2 separate regions of the Homo sapiens genome follow, and region 1 is linked to region 2. The links come from fine-mapping of genetic effects on gene expression. Tissue or cell type: thyroid. Region 2 holds a variant in brackets; the other region holds the start of a gene. All regions are shown on one strand. Distances are between the middles of the regions.

Evidence for each region. PIP is the estimated chance that this variant, and not a neighbour inherited with it, causes the effect.
Region 1: COTL1 starts here. The variant in region 2 is fine-mapped to the expression of COTL1 in thyroid (GTEx, PIP above 0.99).

What each region holds. Positions count from the first base shown.
Region 1 is chr16:84,616,687-84,619,186 of GRCh38, reverse strand. It overlaps COTL1 (coactosin like F-actin binding protein 1), which reads left to right and starts at 1,109. Exons shown (of 4, transcript NM_021149.5): 1 at 1,109-1,349; 2 at 1,604-1,686. The coding sequence starts at 1,273. RefSeq lists silencers at 851-1,210, 1,231-1,280.
Region 2 is chr16:84,531,538-84,534,037 of GRCh38, reverse strand. No RefSeq gene overlaps it. Among named protein-coding and RNA genes, the nearest start is that of MEAK7, 28 kb to the right of the region's middle. RefSeq lists enhancers at 251-927, 928-1,606, 1,607-2,284 and silencers at 1,821-2,115, 2,398-2,500. The variant G/T (reference allele first, on the strand shown) is at 1,560.

The DNA.
Region 1 (2,500 bases), 85 kb before region 2:
CAGTACTGGATGCAATTCAAGAGCCCAGTCTTCAGGATCCTGCCTTTTTACCTACCTGGACGCTGTAACTGGTCTCTGTGGAATGGCTGGATGAGGGAATGAATGAATGAGTCAGTGAAGGAATGAGGAAGACAGAATGAGTCAGCTCGTGCTTTCAGAGGAGCCCAAAGGGAGAGGTTAAGATAGGAATGCAAATGACCAGAATCCAGAGTAAACGCGAGCCCACCAGCGTTTTGGAAGCAGTCCACTTTCTACCCCCTCCTATTTAAAATGCTTCATTCTTTCCAGTTCCTCCCCACCTAGAATCCATGGAACCAAACGCTGGGGTAGGGACAGTGGCCAGCCTGTCTCCTTGGGTTTGACGCATTACATCATCCACGTGGAGGTCCCCTGTGGAGCTCTGCAGCCCTGCAGCCTCAGGGGCAGGGGGGTGGGGAGAATGAGGAAGGGGGAGAGGGGGAATAGGAGGAGGGAGTAGGGGACAGGGAGGGAGGAGATGCCAGGAGGGTAAGTGGAGAAGAGGGAGGCGAAGCCGGGGGCAGCAGGGGAGGGGGTCAAGGAGGAGGAAAGAGGAGAGCTTGGGGAGAAGGAAATAGGGAGGATGGAGAAGTTTTGGGCTGGGATAGGCAAGAAGAGGGAGGAGGAGAGAGGAAGAAGAATAAAGGGGGAAGGGAGAAAGAGGGGGAGGGAAGGGAGGGGGAAGAGGTCAGGGAAGTGGGGGAAGCAAGCAGTGGGGGAAGAAGAGGAAGGAGGAGGGAGAGGAGGAAGGCGGGGTGGGAAAGGGGGTTGGGGTAGTGGGAGTTTCCAGGGAGGGGTCGGGAGGGGAGGAGGGGAAGTGAGAAGGAGAAGGAGAGAGAAGAGGGATGTTGGGGGAGAAGAGAGCGGGAGGGAGGAGGGAGAGTGAGAGGGAGGAGGCAAAGCCCCTACTCCAGCCCCCACCGCGGAGTTGCGCAAGCCTTCCGGTCTGGGATTGGCCGCCAGAGAATCAAGACGCTCCGCCCCCGCAGCCCGACGGCCAATGAAGAGGCGGGCCGCCGCCTGGGCGGCCAATGGGCGCGGGGGGGCGGGGCGGGCCACGGCCTGGGGTCCCCGCGCGCTCTCCGTCCGCAGTGGAAGCCGCCGCCGCGCTCGCAGCTTGCAGGCGCCGCGTAGCCGTCGCCACCGCCGCCAGCCCGTGCGCCCTCGGCGCGTACCCGCCGCGCTCCCATCCCCGCCGCCGGCCAGGGGCGCGCTCGGCCGCCCCGGACAGTGTCCCGCTGCGGCTCCGCGGCGATGGCCACCAAGATCGACAAAGAGGCTTGCCGGGCGGCGTACAACCTGGTGCGCGACGACGGCTCGGCCGTCATCTGGTAGGAACTTTTCATTCGTCTCCACGCCCCGCTCCCCGGGCTCGCGCGGGGCCTCGTGCACCGAGCCGGCCTCCAGGCGGGACGGATTCGGGCCTCCCGCGCTGTCTTCCTCGCCTTATTCCGGGACGGCGTGCCAGGCCCCCGCGGGCTTCTCCGTGGCCAGCGCGTCTGTTAGATTGTCCTCTGCAAGCGCCGCGTCGCGCGGCCACCAGCGCTGATGTGTGTGTGTGTTTTTTTCTTCTCCCAACCCAAAGGGTGACTTTTAAATATGACGGCTCCACCATCGTCCCCGGCGAGCAGGGAGCGGAGTACCAGCACTTCATCCAGCAGTGCACAGGTAGGGAGGCGCGCCTGCCGGGCGGATGCGCGGTCGTTGGGAGGTTGTCTGCACCCGGGGAGCCCCGGCCAGAGCGAACCCGGGAGGAACCGGTGGCCACATGGGGTGCCCCTGGCGCATGGCGTGGGAGGAACCCGGTGTGAGCGTTTTAAGGCCTCATAAAACCTTCTCCCCTCTGGACATCCGAAGCAACAGAAGTGACCCACCTGCCTCCGCCATCCTACAATGCCTTCTCCAGGCGGGGCAGCTCTTTTGCCCCCTGCGGTCCACTGGTTTTCTAAGGTCAACTCCTGTGTTTCCAAACTCCAGTGTCCATCCAGCTCTTCCCACTGTCCCCTTTGATCAGTCACTGAGCCCAAATACGAACAGGCTAGGGGGCTGCTTGGAAGGGAAAGAAACTCAGCCGCGCCCTCCTTTCTCCCGCTATCATTGTCTGCCCGTGTGCTGATTTTATGTGATTTTTAATTTGACGAGTAGAATCAGATGCAAAAGAGTACACACCATATGATTCCATTTAGAAATCCTAGACAAGGCGAAACTAATCTATGGTGTGAATGTCAGAATCGAGATTAGCTTTTGGGGCTAGATAGCCACTGATGGGGAGGGGCACACCACCCGGACTGCTGGGAGCTGAAAATGTCTCTGTAGACATTTGTTGATCTGGGAGGGGGTTATGCAGGTGTGTACCCGCGTGAAAAATCATCAGACTGTATACTTAAGATTTGTGTGCCTTAGGCACTTCCCTGTGGCTTGTGAACCATGAAAAGAAAGACCACGTGGCAGGCATCGCCATAAACCCTTCGGTAGTGGCAGA
Region 2 (2,500 bases):
GCTCTTTAGTGACCAGAGCTCACCTAGTTTTTCAGGCTTGCACAATAGGTGCATAAAGAGTGAACATCAAAGAGACAACCATGCACTGTAATAAATCACAGAACATCTACTGAAGAGAACATCACTCATTTAGTAAATACTGGTGGGATGCGTGCATGATTTCAGCCACTAAAAGTTATGTTATGAGGCTGGGTGCAGTGGCTCACATCTGTAATCCCAGCTCTTTGGGAGGCTGAGGTGGGCAGTTCACTTGAGGTCAGTTGGAGACCAGCCTGGCCAACATGGCAAAACCACATCTCTACTAAAAATAAAAAAAAATTAGCCAGGCGTGGTGGCACGCACCTGTAGTCCCAGCTACTTGGGAGGTGGAGGCAGGAGGATCACTTGAACCTGGGAGGCAGAGGTTGTAGTCAGCCAAGATTACACCACTGCACTACAGCCTGGGCAACAGAGTGAGACTCTGTCTCAAAAAAAAAATTATGATATCAAGTGAAAAAAAATATAAAATTGTATAATTCTGTGTTGCTTCACTTCATGTGACAAGATTATAATTAAGATGTATAAATAGTCACAGGTTAAAAAAAGGAAAGAAAGGAGGGCGATTCACAGAACTGCTAGGGGTGGCCGTATTCCAGCTGCATATATGTGGTTGTGCAGACAGAAGTTAGTATAGCAGGCTTGAGACTGCTATCTTTCGGAAGACCTGCTTGCTAGGTTGACTCTTGGCTGGTGTCTGGGAACTTGGCACTTGAGCTGTTTCCTAAATGATAAAAGTGGTTCACTGTGCTTAGACCACAAACAATGTGGTTCGTGCTAAACACGTGCTTCCCTTCGGGAGCTGGGAATTTGGTACCTGCTAAGAAGAAGGTGCCAACTGACCAGCCCTTAGAAAAACTCTGGGGTGCTGAGTCTCTGATGGGCTTCCTTGGACAGAAGCCTTGCAGACACACAGCTGCATTTTTGTTGATGGGGACGGAATGTGCTCTGTGCAACCCTTCTTGGGGAGGGGAGGGCGTGAGAGAGCCTCATAATGGACTCCTGCAGACTCCAACTCTACGGTTTCGCCTTTTGAGCTGATTGTGTATCCTTACTGCACTGTTGTAAATAAATCTTAGCCACACATACAGCTACCTGAATATGCCGAAGCCCATATGAATTCTTTTAGCAAATCTATGAATGTGAGGGTGGTCTTCGGGACTCCCAGCATAATCTGTGTGAGGTTTCTTGCTTCTCTCTTCTGGAAGGTGGTTATGTTACTTTCATAAGGAAAAAAAATAAACACGCTTCTAAATTTTGCCAAATGAATGTGCAGCTATGATGTTCTGACAGTCATAAGGTTGTGTTCCTGGTGCCGCATCCTCAGCGGGAGTTTCCAGTAGCCGCTTAGCTGGCAGCTTCCTTCCTGCCCTGGCCTTGGCTCTAACATCCCTCCTATGGAGATTGTCAGAAGCCACCACTAACTCTCTTCCTACTGGGCCGCAGGCAGGAAACGACCCAGATAGCCTGGAGCTGAGGCCTTGCCCTGAAAGGGAACCGCACATGAATGCAACAAGACACAA[G/T]AACTCCCAAATATGGACATGAGATGTTAAGCAGCCAAGAATGTGCTTTTAGAAATGGTACCAAGTTCCTCGGCTGCTCCTGGGGAATTCCTCTCGGGAATGCGGAGGCGAATGGTCATTCTTTTCTGGAAAGGTCACTGCTTGTGTTAACATTCACCCTCCCAGTGAGTGCCCTGGCTGAGCTTGTGAATGAGAGAATCAGAATGGAGGGATTTCAGCAAGCAGAGGGGACTAAAGGGACATTTTGCCAAAAATGCAAACCCAGCAGCCAAGATTGCAGTCATTTTCAATAAATGTCAAGCTGCAATACATTTTCAAGTTGCAATCAGTTTGCAAGTTGGTAACATTTTTGGGTTCCTTTGTTCAGGTTCTGGCTTGTCTGCTTGGAGGGTGCGTTCATCTGGAGTGTCAAGACTGACCTGGGGGCGGAGGTGTGGGTGGCGCCGGGGACTTGTTCACCTGGGAAGGATACCACGTCTCTCAGCCTTTGGAAGGAGTGAATGGATGAGCAAATGAATGAGTGCATGAGCAGGCATGATGCTTAGAAACGCAGTGAACCAACTCCGATCCCAAACTGCAGCAGGCTTCATGACAAAGGGAGCAGAACGTACTGGTGAGAACAAGGGCTGTGCTGTCAGACAGACTTGGTTTCCAGACCTGCCTCCACCACAGTGAACTGGGACAAGCCATGCATCTGACTTGTGTATTGGCCACAGATATCTTGGGCAAGATCTCTGAGCATCTGTTTCCTCATCTGTCGCATGGTGCCCATCATTTCTACTTTGAGGGGCACTGTGAGATGAAATGCAATCATGCATGTCAAGTGCAGGCACTCAGGCAGCTACCGGCTCCTCAGGGTTTATTAGGAGGGCACATCAGGAGGAGGGTAAAGTTTCTACCTTCCAGCTGGGTGTGGCTCACACCTGTAATCCCAGCACTTT